Regions from separate parts of the Homo sapiens genome. Here regions 2, 3 and 4 are each reported to be linked to region 1. The links are microRNA targets in miRTarBase. Many come from high-throughput screens and were not tested one by one. Region 1 holds a microRNA gene; each other region holds the end of a gene's coding sequence.

The links. Region 1 holds the annotated microRNA hsa-miR-6744-5p (UGGAUGACAGUGGAGGCCU, at 3,258-3,276, shown strand). A microRNA usually pairs through its seed, bases 2 to 8, with sites in the 3' UTR of a target mRNA and lowers its output. Matches are read on the target gene's strand: a 7mer-m8 pairs with bases 2 to 8, a 7mer-A1 pairs with bases 2 to 7 and ends in A, and an 8mer does both.
Region 2: miRTarBase lists ING4 as a target of hsa-miR-6744-5p. Seed matches in the 3' UTR shown: 7mer-m8 at 670-676.
Region 3: miRTarBase lists PCBP2 as a target of hsa-miR-6744-5p. Seed matches in the 3' UTR shown: 7mer-A1 at 4,573-4,579 and 7mer-A1 at 4,455-4,461.
Region 4: miRTarBase lists TNFSF14 as a target of hsa-miR-6744-5p. Seed matches in the 3' UTR shown: 7mer-A1 at 3,802-3,808.

Annotation. Positions count from the first base shown.
Region 1 is chr11:1,253,353-1,258,422 of GRCh38, forward strand. It overlaps MIR6744 (microRNA 6744), which reads left to right and starts at 3,253; the gene lies at 3,253-3,318. MUC5B (mucin 5B, oligomeric mucus/gel-forming) reads left to right here. Exons shown (of 49, transcript NM_002458.3): 34 at 740-999; 35 at 1,342-1,528; 36 at 1,689-1,914; 37 at 2,031-2,206; 38 at 2,804-2,873; 39 at 3,319-3,419; 40 at 3,888-3,919; 41 at 4,178-4,358; 42 at 4,747-4,851; 43 at 4,978-5,015.
Region 2 is chr12:6,646,679-6,651,748 of GRCh38, reverse strand. It overlaps ING4 (inhibitor of growth family member 4), which reads left to right. Exons shown (of 8, transcript NM_016162.4): 7 at 364-425; 8 at 515-1,448. The coding sequence ends at 554. It overlaps ACRBP (acrosin binding protein), which reads left to right and starts at 4,317. Exons shown (of 10, transcript NM_032489.3): 1 at 4,317-4,425; 2 at 4,737-4,955. The coding sequence starts at 4,383. RefSeq lists enhancers at 4,390-4,459, 4,383-4,896.
Region 3 is chr12:53,478,964-53,484,033 of GRCh38, reverse strand. PCBP2 (poly(rC) binding protein 2) reads right to left here. Exons shown (of 15, transcript NM_031989.5): 15 at 2,872-4,628. The coding sequence ends at 4,592. MAP3K12 (mitogen-activated protein kinase kinase kinase 12) reads left to right here. Exons shown (of 14, transcript NM_001193511.2): 8 at 14-123; 9 at 311-427; 10 at 548-685; 11 at 845-1,469; 12 at 1,665-1,735; 13 at 1,823-2,093; 14 at 2,754-4,365. The coding sequence ends at 2,852. Among named protein-coding and RNA genes, the nearest start is that of PCBP2-OT1, 17 kb to the right of the region's middle. RefSeq lists an enhancer at 1,166-1,679.
Region 4 is chr19:6,660,411-6,665,480 of GRCh38, forward strand. TNFSF14 (TNF superfamily member 14) reads right to left here. Exons shown (of 4, transcript NM_001376887.1): 4 at 843-4,940. The coding sequence ends at 4,516. Among named protein-coding and RNA genes, the nearest start is that of TNFSF14, 7.2 kb to the right of the region's middle.

The DNA of each region.
Region 1 (5,070 bases):
TTTGAAAGGGACCCTGCCCAGGGGCTTCTGGGGCCAGGAGAAGCTCAGGATGGAAGCGGGAGCCCAGAGGAGCTTTTGTCTCCTGGGTCCTAACAGCGGCTTCCATCACCGTGCGGGACCCACCGCTAAGAGGTCACGGCGTTCTCACTCCTCCCCATGTCCTTGGCCCAGGGCTGCTGTTCCAAACCGCCACAAGCTGGGGAGCTTATACAACAGAAACCCACTCTCCGTCCTGGAGCTGGAAGTCTGAGATCCAGGCGGGCAGGGGATAGACTCCCTGCTGAGGGTCTGGGGAGGTCCTTCCTGCCTCTCCCAGCTTTGGGGACTCCAGGTGTCCTTTGGCTGTGGCTGCATCCCTCCGATCTCTGCCTCTGCCTCTCTGTGGCCTCCCCTCTCTGTGTCTGTGTCTCTTCTGTCTCCCGTAAGGACACTGGTCATTGGATTGAGGGCCCACCCAGCTAGTCCACGATGATGTCATTTCAAGATGCTTCCCTTAATCCCATCTGCAAAGACACTTTCTCCCGGCAAAGCCACATGCGGAGGTTCTGGGATAGCCATAGATTTTGGGGGACCCCATTCTACACACTGGACCCATTTTTATAGACGAGGCAGCTGAGGCCCCAGGGGCTTCAGTGGCTCCCCAAGGCGGCAGTCACAGTGGTGACGCTGGCTGCCATGACGCCTGGGGAGCGAGGGCACCACCACGGAGCCTGCCAGCCCGTCCATCTCTGTCCCGCAGGCATCTGCAGCATGTGGGGCGGCTCCCACTATTCCACCTTTGACGGCACCTCTTACACCTTCCGGGGCAACTGCACCTATGTCCTCATGAGAGAGATCCATGCACGCTTTGGGAATCTCAGCCTCTACCTGGACAACCACTACTGCACGGCCTCTGCCACTGCCGCTGCCGCCCGCTGCCCCCGCGCCCTCAGCATCCACTACAAGTCCATGGATATCGTCCTCACTGTCACCATGGTGCATGGGAAGGAGGAGGGCCTGGTGAGTCCAGGCTGCGGGTGGCACAGTGTTGGCCCAGTCCCAACCGCACCTGGGCAGGCCGACTGCAGGCCGGGGTGACCCAGGTGCCGCAGCGATGGCCCAGTGCCCAAGACAGCTCCCAGGGGGCAGGGAAGGCCTGTGGAGCCGCCTAAGGCCGAGCGCACCCTGTGGCCTAAATGCAGCCAGCTGGAGACTCCAGGCCCCCAGGGAAGATCTGGGCTTTGGGGTGGGGGATACACAGGGGGGTCTCTGCACATGGAGGCAGAGCCCCAAAGAGAAGCCCTGCTCCCCGAGCCCACCTGGCACTGCCTCCCAGCTCAGGGTTCCCCTGGATTCCCCCAGATCCTGTTTGACCAAATTCCGGTGAGCAGCGGTTTCAGCAAGAACGGCGTGCTTGTGTCTGTGCTGGGGACCACCACCATGCGTGTGGACATTCCTGCCCTGGGCGTGAGCGTCACCTTCAATGGCCAAGTCTTCCAGGCCCGGCTGCCCTACAGCCTCTTCCACAACAACACCGAGGGCCAGTGCGGTGAGTGGGCGGCGGGTCCTGCCCCGGCCAGGGCTGCTGCTGGGCCTGACAACCCAGTGAGCATAGGGGAAGCCTGGGGAGGGGAATGAGTGGGGGAGGGGGGTGGGGGCTGTGAAAGGCTCCCCAGATTCCAGCCCCGCGGTGACGCCCCCACTCCCAGGCACCTGCACCAACAACCAGAGGGACGACTGTCTCCAGCGGGACGGAACCACTGCCGCCAGTTGCAAGGACATGGCCAAGACGTGGCTGGTCCCCGACAGCAGAAAGGATGGCTGCTGGGCCCCGACTGGCACACCCCCCACTGCCAGCCCCGCAGCCCCGGTGTCTAGCACACCCACCCCCACCCCATGCCCACCACAGCCGCTCTGTGATCTGATGCTGAGCCAGTGAGTCCTCCCCTCGGGGGTTGCAGGCCCTGGGGCGCCCCCGCCCGCCCGCATGCACGCACGCACGCAGCTCCCTGGGGCTGGGGGCCCTCCGTCCTGATCGCTTTGCCCCACAGGGTCTTTGCTGAGTGCCACAACCTTGTGCCCCCGGGCCCATTCTTCAACGCCTGCATCAGCGACCACTGCAGGGGCCGCCTTGAGGTGCCCTGCCAGAGCCTGGAGGCTTACGCAGAGCTCTGCCGCGCCCGGGGAGTGTGCAGTGACTGGCGAGGTGCAACCGGTGGCCTGTGCGGTGAGTGGGGGCGGCCCCGGGCCCCCCAGACCCCTCGGCCTCTCTGAGTGTCCTGTGCGGTGAGTGGGGGCGGCCCCGGGCCCCCCAGACCCCTCGGCCTCTCTGAGTGTCCTGTGCGGTGAGTGGGGGCGGCCCCGGGCCCCCCAGACCCCTCGGCCTCTCTGAGTGTCCTGTGCGGTGAGTGGGGGCGGCCCCGGGCCCCCCAGACCCCTCGGCCTCTCTGAGTGTCCTGTGCGGTGAGTGGGGGCGGCCCCGGGCCCCCCAGACCCCTCGGCCTCTCTGAGTGTCCTGTGCGGTGAGTGGGGGCGGCCCCGGGCCCCCCAGACCCCTCGGCCTCTCTGAGTGTCCTGTGCGGTGAGTGGGGGCGGCCCCGGGCCCCCCAGACCCCTCGGCCTCTCTGAGTGTCCTGTGCGGTGAGTGGGGGCGGCCCCGGGCCCCCCAGACCCCTCGGCCTCTCTGAGTGTCCTGTGCGGTGAGTGGGGGCGGCCCCGGGCCCCCCAGACTCCTCGGCCTCTCTGAGTGTCCTGTGCGGTGATTGGGGGCGGCCCTGGGCCCCCCCAACCCCTTGGCTTGTCTGACACCTCTCTGTGCCCACAGACCTCACCTGCCCACCCACCAAAGTGTACAAGCCATGCGGCCCCATACAGCCTGCCACCTGCAACTCTAGGTAAGTACAGGGATGGCTGGTGCCTTCCCTGCCACCCAGGCCTGCCTGACCGGTCTGGGGGAGCAGGAGGAGGCCAGAGGGTGTCCCACTGTGGGCCACAGATCTCTGGGGTGCCCGAGCCCAGGACTCCTTGGAAAACATCCCCTGCTGCTCCCAGATGCCTTAGAGACAGAGTCAGGCAGGGGGCGCATCCCTGGCCACGCCTGGCCCCGCATCCCCACCTGGCCCCGCCACCGAGCCCCACCCATCCCCGCCCATACTTAGCCCCGCCCACCCCCACCCCAGCCCCACCCGTCCCCGCCCCCAGCCCCGCCCACCCTGAGCCCCGCACTCCACCCATTCATCTCCTTCCCTGCTCCCCACTGCCCATCCTGGGGACTCACGTGGATGACAGTGGAGGCCTCCTGGATCTCTAGGTCTCAGGGCCTCTCTTGTCATCCTGCAGGAACCAGAGCCCACAGCTGGAGGGGATGGCGGAGGGCTGCTTCTGCCCTGAGGACCAGATCCTCTTCAACGCACACATGGGCATCTGCGTGCAGGCCTGCCGTAAGCTCCGCCACCTGTGGCGGGATACGACCCTGGGCCCGACCCAAGCACACACAGGGTGGGAGGAGCCGCCCAGGACCATGATGTGCTCTCCCCTCTCCCCAGCTGACCCCCGTGACCTGTTCTGCCCCACCAGAGCATGGGATGGCCCCAGAGTGGCCCTGAACCCTGCAGAGCCCCCACGGTCCCCTGAAGCCCCACAGGGAGGCTCTGTCCTTGAGTGATCCTGTGATGGTCCCTCCCCTGAGCCCTGCCTCCCACCACCATGGACGAGGCTTCCATGCACTGACAGCTGGGCTCACGGTGCCCTGGCCTGAGCTCCAGCCACATCTGACACCCCAAAAGTTCTCCAGGGCCTTCCATCCCGGGGGGAAGCAGGCTCCAGGCCTGAGAGCACCTCCCATGGCCAGAGGCCCCTCCGCCTGCAAACTCAGCACCCTCCGTGATGCCATGCTGTTTTCTTTCCAGCCTGCGTGGGACCCGATGGGTTTCCTAAATTTGTGAGTGGCTCCACCCCCACCTGCCCTACCCCACCCTCTCGCGAGCTGAGGGAGGGAGGGAAGGAGCATCCCCATCCCACAGGGCAGCTGTGGGGCGCCCGAGTGTGACGTGGACGTGCCAGTGGCTGGTGTGCGCTTCCTGCCCCATCACTCTGGGCCACTCGGGTACCAGCCCGAGGGAGGGGGTGGCTGGACAGATGCCCAGGGTTGACCTGTGTCTGTCCAGGAGCCCTCAGGGACCCCCTTGATCCATTCCAGCCCGGGGAGCGGTGGGTCAGCAACTGCCAGTCCTGCGTGTGTGACGAGGGTTCAGTGTCGGTGCAGTGCAAGCCCCTGCCCTGTGACGCCCAGGGTCAGCCCCCGCCGTGCAACCGTCCCGGCTTCGTAACCGTGACCAGGCCCCGGGCCGAGAACCCCTGCTGCCCCGAGACGGTGTGCGGTAAGACGCTGCAGAGCAGAGGTGCCCGGCATAGGGTGAGGGGGGACAGAGCCGGTGCCCACCAGGGGCCTGTGGGTTGGGCACAGGAGAGCAGAGGAGAGCCACTGTGTCCTGGCGTGACCGCGGCAGGACCACTCGGCAGAGATGGCCTCCAGGTGCTTCATTCTCCTCCTAACGATGAGGCTGGTGACCTCTGGCCTGCCCAGGAGTGGCCCAGGGACGTGGGAAGCAGCGGGGAGGTGGCCAAGCAAGGGGCCTGGAGGGAGCCCCCAGGGGCTGTGAAGCGGTCAGGTCCTCGGGGAAAAGCACGCCTGCGACTTACTCTGGGAACAAGTGGTCGGGAGGAGGAGTGAGCAGCGCCCAGACAGTGGCCTCCATCCTCCCGCAGTGTGCAACACAACCACCTGCCCCCAGAGCCTGCCTGTGTGCCCGCCAGGGCAGGAGTCCATCTGCACCCAGGAGGAGGGCGACTGCTGTCCCACCTTCCGCTGCAGTGAGCGGGGCTGGGGCCGGGCTCCTGGGTGGCCTCTTGCTGGGGGTGGGGGAGTGCAGGATGGTGGGGGCGCTGGAGCACATGCTCCCCACCACTTGTCGAGGGCTTAGCTCCCTTTCCTTCCAGGACCTCAGCTGTGTTCGTACAATGGCACCTTCTACGGGGTAAGGGCACAGCAGTGGGTGGGTGTGGCCCTGGGGCCTGAACATGTGTGTGGGA
Region 2 (5,070 bases), not on the chromosome of region 1:
CCAACACGGTGAAACCCCGTCTCCACTAAAAATACAAAAATTAGCCAGGCATGATAGCCTGTGCCTGTAATCTCAGCTGCTTGGGAGGCTGAGGCAGGAGAATAGCTTGAACTCGGGAGGCGGGGGTTGCAGTGAGCTGAGATCATGTCATTGCATTCCAGCCTGGGCAACAGAGTGAGACTCTGCCTCAAAAAGAAAAAAAGAATAGAAGGAAGATGGTGGGAACTGGTTGGCCTTGGGACTTCCAAGAATTCTCCAAAAGGATGGAGTAAAGGACAGGATGTTCCTAAGGAATCTGGAGGGGCTTTCTCTCCTTCCTCTGGCCCTTCCTGGCCCCTGACTACTTCTTTCTTCCTCTTCCAGTGTTCCATTGAGTGGTTCCATTTTGCCTGTGTGGGGCTGACAACCAAGCCTCGGGGGAAATGGTAAGTGGCAGGAGTTGGAGGGTCCCTAAGTTGAGTGGTCAAGGGCATTCTCCCTTTCACTCACTTTTCTCTCCCCTTCTCTGTTTCAGGTTTTGCCCACGCTGCTCCCAAGAACGGAAGAAGAAATAGATAAGGGCCTTGGATTCCAACACAGTTTCTTCCACATCCCCTGACTTGGGCTAGTGGGCAGAGGAATGCCTGTGCTGGGGCCAGGGGTTCAGGGAGGAGTGGATGGCACAGTGCTGTCATCCCTTCTCCTCCCCTCTCCCCACTCCCGGTGCTGAGGCTGCATCAGACCCTGGTAGGGAGGGGTGCCGCAGCCACTAACGGTATGTGCTCTCCTTCAGCCCTCTCCCTTCGGAGGGACGTGGTCTTGCCCACTGTCCTTTTGCCTCCATGCTGAGGTCGGTGCTGTATTTCAGAGGGAGGGTCCTTTTCATTCTCCTTGCTTTGTATTTAAGGACTGGGGCATAGCATGGGGGCAGTCCCCCAGACCTCTTCATTCCCCCTCCTGTGGTGAGGGCTAGGTGTGATCAACACTTTTCTTCTCCATTCCCTTCCTGCTTTTTTCATGGTGGGGGATCCACCAGGTCATCTAGGCTCTGGCCCTAGTTGAAGGGGCACCCCTTCCTCTGTGCCAAGAGGATTCATCCTGGGAGAGGGGGCAAGGTGGAATGCAGATAACTCACATGTAAAAGGAACTTGGGTAGGTAAATAAAAGCTATACATGTTGGCCTGCTGTGTTTATTGTAGAGACACTGTTTTAGTAAACATGCTGAGCATTCATTTTGCGTCCTCTGGGTTGGATGCAATGTGAGAGGATGGCATGCCAGAATTAGGACACGACATGAAACCAGAGTGGTGCCTCTGTCCGAGAACTTGTAAGTTCTCAACTTGGGAAAGACAGAGGTGCTGGAGGGTAGGCCTCAGACCAGGGGGTCTCCAAAACTTTGTAAATCATGCATCTTTTCTCCATAAAACATCTTTCACTTAATTTCCAATAAATGATGTATTTGTGCTATACATACGTACTGCTATACTATACATTAGCTTGACTTCTTTTTTTTTTTCCTTTGAGGCGAAGTCTCACTCTGTTGCCAGGCTGGAGTGCAGTGGCGTGATCTTGGCTCACTGCAGTCTCCGCCTCCGGGTTCAAGTGATTCTCCTGCCTCAGTCTTACAAGTAGCTGGGACTACAGGCACATGCTACCACGCCCAGCTAATTTTGTATTTTTAGTAGAGACAGGGTTTCACCGTGTTGGCCAGGATGGTCTCCATCTCTTGACCTCATGATCTGCCTGCCTTGGCCTCCCAAAGTGCTGGGATTACAGGCGTGAGCCACAGCACCCAAGCTGATTTCTTTTTTTCATTTTTTAAAATTTTTTTTAAAGTAGGCCAGGCCCGGTAGCTCACGCCTGTAATCCCAACACTTTGGGAGGCCAAGGGAGGTGGATCACCTGAGGTCAGGAGTTCAAGACTAGCCTGGCCAACATGGCGAAACCCGGTCTCGGCCAAAAATACAAAAATTAGCTGGGCGTGGTCATGGGTGCCTGTAATCCCAGCTACTCGAGAGGGTGAGGCAGGAGAATCGCTTGAACCTGGGAGGCAGAGGTTGCAGTGAGCTGAGATTGTACCACTGCACTCCAGCCTGGGCGATAGAGTGAGACTCCGTCTCAAAAAAATAAATAGGCTGGGTGCGGTGGCTCACACCTGTAATCCCAGCACTCTGGGAGGTTGAGGTGGGTGGATCACCTGAGGTCCGGAGTTCGAGGCCAGTCTGGCCAACATGTTAAAACCCCATCTCTACTAAAAATACAAAAATTAGCCAGATGTGGTGGCATGTGCCTATAATCCTAGCTACTTGGGAGGTTGAGGCAGGAGAATCACTTGAACCCAGGAGGCAGAGATTGCACTGTGCTGAGACCAGCCATAATTTTTGTATTTTTAGTAGAGACTGGGTTTCACCCTTTTTTTTTTTTTGAGATGGAGTCTCACTCTGTCATGCAGGCTGGAGTGCAGTGGCGTGATTTCGGCTCACTGCAACCTCCATCTCCCGAGTTCAAGCAATTCTCCTGCCTCAGCCTCCCGAGTAGCTGGGACTACAGGCACATGCCACCACGCCTGGCTAATTTTTTGTATTTTTAGTAGAGACAGGGTTTCACCGTGTTAGCTAGGATGGTCTTGATCTCCTGACCTCGTGATCTGCCTGCCTTGGTCTCCCAAAGTGCTAGGATTACAGGCATGAGCCATCGCACCGGCCAAGTTTCACCATTTTGGCCAGGCTGGTCTCAAACTCCTGGCCTCAAGAGATCCACCCTCCTTGGCCTCCCAAAGTGCTGGAATTCCAGGAATGAGCCACAGTGCCTGGTCTCTATTTTATTAATTTATTTTATTTTATTTTATTTTTGAGACAGGGTCTCACTTTGTCACCCAGGCTGGAGCACAGTGGTGAGATCTCAGCTCACTGCAGCCTTGACCTCTGAAGACTCAGGTGATCCTCCTACCTCAGCCTCCCCAAGTAGTAAGTGGGACAACAGGCGCACACCACCACACCTGACAATTTTTGTATTTTTTGTAGAGACAGGGTTTCGCCATGTTGCCCAGGCTGGTCTGGAACTCCTGGGCTCAAGGAATCCACCCGCCTTGACTTCCCAAATGCTGGGATTACAGGCGTGAGCCACCAAGTCTGGCCCAAGACAATTTCTTGTTTTATTTTTCTTTTTTACTTTTGCTTTTGGGTGGGGACAGGGTCTCACTTTGTCACCCAGGCTGGAGAGCAGTGGCCCGATTGCACCTCACTGCAGCCTTGGCCTCATGGGCTCAAGCGATCCTCCCATCTCAGCCCCCCAAGAAACTGGGACTACAGGCACGTGCCACCACGCTTGGCTAATTTTTTGTACTTTTTGTAGAGACGAGGTTTCGCCCTGTTGCCCAGGCTGGAATTTCTCATTTTAAACACAAAACAGATACAAAAGCAAAAGTTCTCCTCCCATACCTCAGTGGACTGTCTTACTCGATTCTCCCTTGGAAACCACTTTCGTAGACCACTGAGCCACCCTCTTGTTTTCCCCTTGGACCCATTTTGCTCATGGAGGCGCCCTGTCTAGTTCCTACCCAGATAGGCCTTGACTTGGTTTTGCACATTCTATCTCTGCCTGCGCTTAGCTCTAGACCTCACGACCTGTTTGTTGGGCGAGTTGCTTCCCTAAGCCCCGATTTCTCATCTGTAAAACGAATGATAGTGTATCTACCTTATGGGATTCCTATGGCAATTACGTAAGGTAGTGCATGTAAAGATGCTAAGTGGCTGGCTACGGTGGCTCACACCTGTAATCCCAGCACTTTGGGAGGCCGAGGTGGGCAGATCATTTGAAGTCAGGAGTTCAAGACCAGCCTGGCCAACATGGTGAAACCCAGTCTCTACTAAAAATACAAAAATTAGGCCGGGCATGGTGGCTCACGCCTGTAATCCCAGCACTTTGGGAGGCCGAGGTGGGCGGATCACAAGGTCAAGAGATCGAGACCATCTGGCCAGCATGGTGAAATACCATCTCTACTAAAAATACAAAAATTAGCTGGGCGTGGTGGCGTGCACCTATAGTCCCAGCTACTCGGGAGGCTGAGGCAGGAGAATCACTTGAACCTGGGACGCCGAGGTTGTAGTGAGCCGAGATCGCACCACTGCACTCCAGCCTGGGCGACAGAGTAGGACTCCGTCTCAAAAAAAAAAGAAAAAGACGCTAAGTGAAGGTAGCTGTTTGCCATTCCTACCATCTGGATGGGCTCTGGCCACTTTAGGGCCCTGAGAGCCCGGCTGTCGAGGCCCCGCCCCGGCCCGCTCTTTGTGACGCGTGGGCGGTGCCCGCGTGCGCCCCGCCCCGCGCCTGCGGCTCTCTCTGCGGCTTGGCCCGTTAGAGGCGGCTTGTGTCCACGGGACGCGGGCGGATCTTCTCCGGCCATGAGGAAGCCAGCCGCTGGCTTCCTTCCCTCACTCCTGAAGGGTGAGAGGTTTACACCTGCTCCAACAGACTCTCCCCGGGCTAGTCCTCTCCCTCCCGAGAGCTCTGCTTTTACGGTTTCTGGATCGCTTCCTCATGGTGGTCGCGCTGGGTCGGCTCCCTAGGTCCTGGGATACTCCCATCTCCCCCCGCCCGCGGCCGGACCTTTGCCTCTGTCTCTAGACTCCCCCCGCCCTGGTCAGCAGGGATAACCCTCACCCCGTTCCTAATTTGCCAGTCTGGGTCTGTCTGTCCTGGTCTCGGAGCGGGTTTTGGGGTTCGGTCCTTCCATCATCCGTTCGCCCGCTCCGCAGTGCTGCTCCTGCCTCTGGCACCTGCCGCAGCCCAGGATTCGACTCAGGCCTCCACTCCAGGCAGCCCTCTCTCTCCTACCGAATACGAACGCTTCTTCGCACTGCTGACTCCAACCTGGAAGGCAGAGACTACCTGCCGTCTCCGTGCAACCCACGGCTGCCGGAATCCCACACTCGTCCAGCTGGACCAATATGAAAACCACGGCTTAGTGCCCGATGGTGAGGGCCAGACTAGGGGGGAAACCGAGGCACCCAGAGTGTTCACCCAAACCTCAGGGCAAAAACCCCTGTGCTCATGTGAGGCGGGGAAGGGCATGGCTGGCACCACACCATG
Region 3 (5,070 bases), not on the chromosome of region 1:
TCTCAACCCATAGGCAGAGTGGCGGGAAGAAGTAAAACTGCACTTTGAAAAGATTAAGTCAGAAGGGACCTGTCTGCACCGCCTAGAAGAGGAACTGGTGATGAGGAGGAGGGAGGAGCTCAGGTGAGTTCCCGTGCTTGGGGAGGTGATTTTACTAACAGCAAGGACTATGCACCCAGTCAGCTCCTACCCAGCCCCAGGGCGGGTGGAAGGACTACGAAAGGACTGTGGACAGGAATTCTGAGACTGAGATCTGTTATGGCCCTAGGTGAACCCAGTTCACCTTGGGGAACCTTTCTGCCCGTTGCAGACACGCCCTGGACATCAGGGAGCACTATGAAAGGAAGCTGGAGAGAGCCAACAACCTGTATATGGAACTTAATGCCCTCATGTTGCAGCTGGAACTCAAGGAGAGGGAGCTGCTCAGGTAACCCTACCTGTCCTTATGCACCAAGCCCTGGAGCTGTGCCTGCCTTAGAGGTCCTACTGAGACTGGGGTGCCCCTTCCTGGTCATTTGCCCAGCTGAGAAGGTGCCTGGATCTTTAGGCGAGAGCAAGCTTTAGAGCGGAGGTGCCCAGGCCTGCTGAAGCCACACCCTTCCCGGGGCCTCCTGCATGGAAACACAATGGAGAAGCTTATCAAGAAGAGGAATGTGCCACAGAAGCTGTCACCCCATAGCAAAAGGTGGGACATGAGTACTGTGGTTCCAATATGGCAAGAGGGATACTGAAGTGGCAACAGGTATATTAGCAGGGAGATGTGTACTTTAGTGTCCAAGGTTAGGGAGTGCTTTGAGTACATAGATTTGGCAGTCTTAACCTTTTACTTTTCCTCTTCTTCCAGGCCAGATATCCTCAAGACGGAGTCTTTGCTCCCTAAACTAGATGCAGCCCTGAGTGGGGTGGGGCTTCCTGGGTGTCCTAAGGGCCCCCCCTCACCAGGACGGAGTCGCCGTGGCAAGACCCGTCACCGCAAGGCCAGCGCCAAGGGGAGCTGTGGGGACCTGCCTGGGCTTCGTACAGCTGTGCCACCCCATGAACCTGGAGGACCAGGAAGCCCAGGGGGCCTAGGAGGGGGACCCTCAGCCTGGGAGGCCTGCCCTCCCGCCCTCCGTGGGCTTCATCATGACCTCCTGCTCCGCAAAATGTCTTCATCGTCCCCAGACCTGCTGTCAGCAGCACTAGGGTCCCGGGGCCGGGGGGCCACAGGCGGAGCTGGGGATCCTGGCTCACCACCTCCGGCCCGGGGTGACACCCCACCAAGTGAGGGCTCAGCCCCTGGCTCCACCAGCCCAGATTCACCTGGGGGAGCCAAAGGGGAACCACCTCCTCCAGTAGGGCCTGGTGAAGGTGTGGGGCTTCTGGGAACTGGAAGGGAAGGGACCTCAGGCCGGGGAGGAAGCCGGGCTGGGTCCCAGCACTTGACCCCAGCTGCACTGCTGTACAGGGCTGCCGTCACCCGAAGTCAGGTAAAGTATGGGAAGGCTCCCAAGCTCTTTCCCTTTTTCCTTATCCTCCCTGGGGTCCAAGTCTAATCCCCCACATTATGCTCAATTTTAAGCCATTCCCTACTTCACCCTTCGTAACTATGTTCCCTTCTCCTGGATTCTTAGTGACCTCTTTCCACTTCTAATCAGACCCCCCCCACCCCATCTCTCCTGCAGAAACGTGGCATCTCATCGGAAGAGGAGGAAGGAGAGGTAGACAGTGAAGTAGAGCTGACATCAAGCCAGAGGTAAGTGATGGCATTACAAGAATTAATGGCATTCTTGTTTTCTGCTAGGGGCAGAACCAAGCTGTAATCCCCCTCTTCAACATGTAGGTGGCCTCAGAGCCTGAACATGCGCCAGTCACTATCTACCTTCAGCTCAGAGAATCCATCAGATGGGGAGGAAGGCACAGCTAGTGAACCTTCCCCCAGTGGCACACCTGAAGTTGGCAGCACCAACACTGATGAGCGGCCAGATGAGCGGTCTGATGACATGTGCTCCCAGGGCTCAGAAATCCCACTGGACCCACCTCCTTCAGAGGTCATCCCTGGCCCTGAACCCAGCTCCCTGCCCATTCCACACCAGGAACTTCTCAGAGAGCGGGTGAGTGGCACAACAGCAAAAAGCAGATATTGAACAGGGAGAGCTGTAAGCAGATGCCTTGTCTTTTAACAGCTTTTGGGGAGACAGCTGCACAGGCCAGAAAGTACCATAAAGAGCAAATATCCACGTGGTGGAATTTCAGAAGCCTCTTGCACAGAGCATCTATTACGATGCCTGACCAGTAGCTTGCATGTAGCTATAAATTGCAGCCAGGGAATGATTCTGAAAGGAGTCTGACACCTTGGAGAATGGCCTGAGCAACTGAAATCTGGAAGGAATAAAACCAGTAAGCTGGCTGGGCATGGTGACTCACGCCTGGAATCCCAGAACTTTGGGAGGCCGAGGCGGGTGGATCACAAGGTCAGGAGTTCAAGACCAGCCTGACCAATATGGTAAAACCCCATCTCTATTAAAAGTACAAAAATTAGCTGGGCGTGGTGGTGCATGCCTGTAGTCCCAGCTACTCAGAAGGCTGAGGCAGAAGAATTGCTTGAACCTGGGAGGCAGAGGTTGCAGTGAGCCGAGATTGTGCTACTGCACTCCAGCCTGGGCGAGAGTGAGACTCTGTCTTAAAAAACAAATCAGTAAGCCACTGGCTATTAAAATGACCCCAGCAAAGAACCCCAAGGAATCTCACTCCATTTCTACTCTTTCTCACAGGGCCCTCCCAATTCTGAGGACTCAGACTGTGACAGCACTGAATTGGACAACTCCAACAGCGTTGATGCCTTGCGGCCCCCAGCTTCCCTCCCTCCATGAAAGCCACTCGTATTCCTTGTACATAGAGAAATATTTATATAAATTATATATATATACATATATATATATATATGCGCCACATAATCAACAGAAAGATGGGGCTGTCCCAGCCGTAAGTCAGGCTCGAGGGAGACTGATCCCCTGACCAATTCACCTGATAAACTCTAGGGACACTGGCAGCTGTGGAAATGAATGAGGCACAGCCGTAGAGCTGTGGCTAAGGGCAAGCCCCTTCCTGCCCCACCCCATTCCTTATATTCAGCAAGCAACAAGGCAATAGAAAAGCCAGGGTTGTCTTTATATTCTTTATCCCCAAATAATAGGGGGTGGGGGGAGGGGCGGTGGGAGGGGCAGGAGAGAAAACCACTTAGACTGCACTTTTCTGTTCCGTTTACTCTGTTTACACATTTTGCACTTGGGAGGAGGGAGGCTAAGGCTGGGTCCTCCCCTCTGAGGTTTCTCAGGTGGCAATGTAACTCATTTTTTTGTCCCACCATTTATCTTCTCTGCCCAAGCCCTGTCTTAAGGCCCAGGGGGAGGTTAGGAGACTGATAGCATGTGATGGCTCAGGCTGAAGAACCGGGGTGCTGTTTAAGTCCCTGCTTTTATCCTGGTGCCTGATTGGGGTGGGGACTGTCCTACTGTAACCCCTGTGAAAAACCTTGAAATATAACACTCCATGCAGGCCCAGCTGTTGAGGGTTTTCTTGATGAATGAATGGGGTACCATACATGGTTAAGATAAAGCCTTGGGCTCCGGACTTTATCTGAGGTGTCTGGAGAAGTTCTCCTGCCCCTCCACTTTTTTGCATCTACTCTCACTAAATGAGTATAATGTCAAGCCCCAACTTTCTAAAATTATAGGAATAAATGGTAGCAGATACATCCTTCTAACTTGTTATGGAGGACTATAAATGAAGTTACTAAAAACAATAGACTGAAATTTTTAGTTTAAAATATGCAAGCCTGAACAAGGGGACCAACATTCCCAAGAAACTGGAACCCAGTCAGACATATGATCAACTGCTTAATGTGTATGCCATGTATGTCATGTGTCATTCCTTTCCCCCACCCCCTCCCTAGTGGAAGTGCTTGCCTACTCCCCTAGGACAGGTAAGTCCTCGGAAAGTCTAATCCTCAATCTTTTGGGCACAAGTTTTATAAGGGCCAACCAAGCATGGAGTCAGGGAAAAATAGGATCGAGGGCCACAAAAAAAGATGGAAGTGGTAAAATAGAAGAAAACATCTTAACCGGAATAAAGGCTTCCATTCAAAACCCAAGAAGGGTCCTTTGAGGGATAAAAGGTACAAAAATAACAGCAAGACAAGAGGAATAAAACCCACATGAATCACTGTGGCATCCAGTTTCTATTCACAAAGAAAAAGCTCCAGTCCATCTTTTAATTTTTTTGAAAAATTCCTGACATTACAGAACTAAACTGAAATGTATTAATATTCCACTCTTACATTTCCATGACAAACAGAAAAATTCATGAGCCAAAAAAAAAAAACCAGGGAGAAGCTTATAAAACTAAATATGGATCTCAGCATCAACAGCTGAACAGAGAAAGGAATTAAAACGCTTTAATTAAAAAATCACGAGTGGATGATAAAGTGTGTAGAAACTGAAAATTTACAAACTATTTAAAACCTGGAATCGCTGACTGTTCAGAAACTACACAGATGGATCATGGGTGGTGGTGAACAGCAGAAAGGGATTATGGATGAATCTGCATTGTTCTAGCTGCTCCCCATGCCACCCGTCTCCGAGGAAAGCCTGTAACACAGAAACAAGAACTCAGTTAGTTTCCCCAGTGCTCAGCTGCACCTCATCTCTACCTGGTTCATGAAATGTGAAGAGTAAATAACCAGTGCTGGAGTACCAAGGGAGACATTTTAAGGTTTCTTAAATTTACCAGTACCATGATCCTTTAATCCTTGCAATTCAAGCATGTGGAGGTCTATTACCTCAGAACCAAGGGAAACAGCCCTTGTTATCCAATGTCCCTCAAACTATGTTCTCTTTTAGTTCCACCTCCATGGTGGGCTAACCAAGGAGTGTACTTTCTGGAAACAGGCCCCTCTAAAGAGTGCTCACAATACACAGAAGCAATGTTTCTTTATTGCTGAGCTCACTTTGGCTCCTCCCAAACTGCTGACAGAATACCAGTTTAGGAAAGAAAGAGTCATCTGAGAGTAGTCTCAAGGGTTTAATGCTG
Region 4 (5,070 bases), not on the chromosome of region 1:
ACAGACAAGGGGTGGGGGTCCCGTGATGGGATCAGTCAGATGCCCGCCTGGCCACTCCCCTTGTGAGGACTCAGGCTCCTCTTAGCTTTGGCAGGCCGGTATAAACGCCCGTTCAGATCCAGCTATGCTCAATGCTGCCCTAAGCCTTATGAGGTCACCACGGAACCACAGGTGAGGGCCCACTCGAACTCTGTAGCTTTTGCCGTGGAGCTACAAACTGAAAATTCAAGCGCGAGCCCTTGACCTCCACATTCACTCACTCACTCACACAGAGTTTATTACAATTCTTCAATACCCGTTTTAAAACAGAGGTCTCCTTGAGACCTCAACGAGAGGAGAAGAGATAGAGAGAGAGAGAAAGAAAGAGACTAGTCTTACAGAGATGCCTGACAGAAACCAGGACTCTGTCCTCCAGCATCCTGGAATTTGGACAGAGTCAGAGGGATGCCCTCATCAGAGCCGCTTCCCTCCCAGAGAAACAGAGTCAGACAGAAACCAGGACTCTGTCCTCCAGCGTCCTGGAATATGGACAGAGTCAGAGGGACGCCCTCATCAGGGCCACCTCCCTCCCAGAGAAACAGAGTCAAATCTGACTTACCTTCCCGGGACCAGACACTGAGGACTCAGGAGTTGAATTTGGTTGAGGACACCGGCAGCCGATCCGTTCCCCTCTGGAAGACGGTGGCCTACACGTCCCTGGAACGTCTTTAGGTGGCGCCTCCCCTATAAGCTCGCCGTCTGTCCAGGGGAGCCCGGAACGGGTCCAGATTTCACCCGGTGGCGGATCTCGCTGTGGCCTCCAAATGTTGTAACTGAGTGAGTTATAGAGAAATGCCACACTCTTAGACTAATTCAGGAGTCCTTTATTAGCCGGCGACTGAGAGACGGCTAGCGCTCAAAATTCTCTCCACCCCAAAGAAGGGGCTAGGTTTCTTTTTATACCTTGGTTTAGAAGGGGAAGAGGGAGCCGAGCTGAAGCAATTTTACAGAAGCAAAACAGGCAAGAAAGTGAAAAAGATAAATGGTAACAGAAAAACAAACAGTTCCAGGTGCAGGGGCTTTAAATCTATCACAAGGTGATAGACGCGGGGGCTTTGGGTGCTATCAACCGGACGAATTCCTGGGAATTGTGGATATAGCTTGTCACAGTATCTTATCAGTAATCGCATTCTTGGATGTGCTGGGAGTCAGCTTAAGTCCTTGAGGAAGGGGGGTGGGTGAGAGACTGCAAGCGAAGAAGCCAAAATAGAGTCTGCCTGGCCCTCTCAGCTAAGGGAGAGTCAATCACGTTAAACACAAGGTAGGGTATCACATTGGAATTACAGGCATGAGCCACTGCACCCAGCCGACATCACCATCCTTCCTGACTCTGAATTTATATACTACTAACCAGCAATCATTTTCCTCCACCTATTCAACACAGAAGTACCTAACAGTAAAAGATGAGAGATACCTATCTGGCATGTGAGAAAATGATATATAGCTACTGACGGGGATTTCCTTTGAGGATGCTGAGTAAACTTCGTGGTGTGTGCCTGCATTTCCACTGCAATCTATCACATGTGATGAGTTGTGGAATTTCCCACTTGTGGCATCACACTGGGGCTCAAAGAGTTTCAGATTTTGGAGCATGTTTTTTTGTTTTTTGAGATGGGAGCCTTGCTCTGTCACCCAGGCTGGAGTGCAGTGGTGTGATCTCAGCTCACTGCAACCTCAACCTCCAGGGTTCCTGCCTCAGCCTCCCGAGTAGCTGGGGTTACAGGTGCCCCCCACCACACCCAGGTAATTTTTTGTATTTTTAGTAGAGATGGGGTTTCGCCATGTTGGCCAGGCTGGTCTGGAGCTCCTGACCTCAGGTTATCCGTCCACTTTGACCTCCCAAAGTGCTGGGATTACAGGTATGAGCCACCACGCCCGGCCTAGATTTTGGAGCATTTTGAATTTGGGATGGTGAATCTGTACTGTTGTTCCTCTCCCCCCACAACCATCTTGCCGATGGGGAAACTGAAGCATTGAGAGGTGATGGAAATTGCTGGAGGTCATATAGCTGGTGAGTGGCAGAGTGGACTCAGAACCCAGGATCATCTGATTGCAAAATCTGTTTCCTTCATCTCTGTACTGTGCAACAATGACAAGAATACTATTGGCGATAACAACAATAACCCACAAATTTTGACTTGTCATTCACAACAACAACAAAACAATAATAACAATACATTCACCTCTGGGGTCGAAACCCATATCCTAGAATCCTAGGAACTAAGGATTCCCTCCAGCCACACTGCAGCAATGCTCATTTGCATAGACCCTCTAATTTGTATGCATATCATTATCTGCCCCCACCCAACCCACCAGCTCCCTGTGTTTTATGCTTCCAGCTGGCTTGGCGGATTGTCATTCTGTCCTGGATGTGTCTAATAAGGGCGTCTTGCGGGATGTAGCCTCTACTTCCTCAGGAATTGTGGATTGGAGAGGAAGCCAGATCCAGACGTGAGGTCTCTGGTTTCCCCCACATTTCCTGCATGGACTTGAGCCAACTGGGTCCAGGTTCCTCATCTGTAGAATGACCTCCATGGGTCATTACCTCCATCCCTCTGCCTCTAGGAGCCACCACTTGTTGCTGATGGTTGCCCCCCATCCGACTCCTCCCTTTCCCTGTGGGGCTCTTTAGGCCTGACAATTCCTCTCCACCCTTCTTCAGTTTGTTCCCCTAAGAACTAGACAGATCCAGGTACAACTATTTGCCATTTATTTCAAAGATCAGTGGTTAAGAGGCCCAGGGTTATGAACAAGGTCTGGTCCTCACCCCGAGATGTGTTAGTCTGGGCTGGGGAGGGCCCTCAGGCTGTGTGTATATGTGTGTAATGTTGTGTGTTTGTCATTGTGATGTGTGTGTGATGTGTGTGTCATTGTGATGTTGTGTGTGTGTAATGTTGTGTTTGTCATTGTGATGTGTGTGTAATGTGTGTTTGTCATCGTGATGTTGTGTGTGTAATGTGTGTTTGTCATCGTGATGTTGTGTGTGTAATGTGTGTTTGTCATTGTGATGTTGTGTGTGTGTAATGTGTATTTGTCATGGTGATATTGTGTGTGTGTATGTGTGTAACCAGGTCTGACTATAACTTGGTCTGTCTGTGTCTAATGTAATGAGTATTAATTACCAAGTGTGACGGTGACACCTCTGGGAGTGGCTGTGTAGCTGGGATGCTGTCTGAGTTTTGTGTGCTTGTGTTATAACATACACACAGTGCTGTGACTGTCTGTGATGCCGTCTGTGACTTCCATGTGATTGTGTGGTTGTGCATGAATCTGGCACTTCGCGTGTATGAGTCTATAGTTGTGAAAGAGTGGCTGAGATTATGCAGCCATGTGACAGATTTTGTGGGATGCCATAGGTGTGACTGTAGAGTCATTCTTCCTTCCTTTCAATCAGCAAGCATTTCCCTAGAGCATGCTTTGTGCCAGGCCCTGGGCCGGATGCCGGGGACAGATCCGTGGTGTCCTATTAGGGATGTCTATGCTTGGCAGTGATGAAATCAGCCATGGTGGTAGCATTTACACCATGGAAATTGGCAAACATTACAAAGCTGTCCCCCTCCCAGGACAGCTGGTTGTTAAACAGTTATGAGCACGCTGCCGTGCTCATGTATCTGAGTGTAACTCTTTGTGACCAGGCTGAGGTGTGGCCACCAGTCTGTGGGTGGGATCTGAGTATGTGGGGTGGGGCTGGGCTCTTCATGATGAGTCCCGATGATCAGTCTCCCGCCCACCCTGTCCGTACTCATGATGAGAGTAGGGAAGTGGATGAAGTTTCCCACCCCCAGCCAAGTCCCTGGAATCCCAAGCCCCACTTTCTTCTGAATCAAAAGCATAAATACCCACCCCTCACCCCTTCTTCCTGAATATCAGGCAAATCAACTTTACCCCATGTTTGGGGGCCCACAGACCCCAAGTCTCTGGGTTTTTGTCCTTAGTATTGTCCGTGGCAGGGTCTGCAGTCTACGTGGGTCTTCTGAAGGTGCCTGCTGGGGCTTCATCTCGCCTTGGTGGTGCCCACTGAGCTCTCCGCCTTTGAGTTTTGGGTTCCCTGGAGTGTCCCCCAAGATCTGTTTCCTGAGTTTTCTTTTTTCTTCCTTTCTTTTTTTTGAGGCACAGTCTCACTGCGTTTCCCAGGTTGGAGTGCAGTGGTGTGATCTCGGCTCACTGCAACCTCCGCCTCCCGGGTTTAAGCAAAATTATCCTGCCTCAGCCTCCTGAGTAGCTGGATTACAGGCAGGCACCACCACGTCCGGCTAATTTTTGTATTTTTAGTAGAGATGGGGTTTTGCCATGTTAGCCAGGCTGGTCTCGAACTCCTGACCTCAGGTGATCCGCCTGCCTTGGCCTCCCAAAGTGCTGGGATTACAGGCGAGAGCCACCACGCCCAGCCTCTGCTTCGTGAGTTTTCTTTCCCCTGAGGCACCCTCTGAGTTCTCCACGTGTCAGACCCATGTCCAATGCACCACGCTCCTTCCTTCACACCATGAAAGCCCCGAAGTAAGACCGGGTACCATCACGCAGTCGAACCAGGCGTTCATCCAGCACACGGACGACCACCTTCTCCCCAGCCTCCAGGTGTACCACACCACCCAGGAAGCTGCTGTCCCACCAGACCCGGGAGCTGCTGGTGGCCCGTCCGCAGGGTGACTGCTGGCTGACCAACAGCTCCAGCTCCTCGGGGTAGCGGGGTGTGCGCTTGTAGAGGCCGTGGGTGATGGTGCTGGCCAGGCCCAGCGGGCAGCCCACACCGCCCAGCTGCACCTTGGAGTAGATGTAGTAGTAGCCAGCTTTGGTGACCACAAGGGCCCCATCGTGGTAGCTGAGGCCCCTCAGGAAGGCCAGGCCCAGCTGAGTCTCCCATAACAGCGGCCCCCCGCTGCCGGTCAAGCTGGAGTTGGCCCCTGTTGGGAAGAGAGAGACAAAGGGGGCTGCCGGTCAGCACATGTCTTCCTCTGTTGCTTGTTTGTTTGTTTGTTTGACACAGAGTCTCGCTCTGTGGACCAGGCTGGAGTGTGGTGGCATGATCTCGGC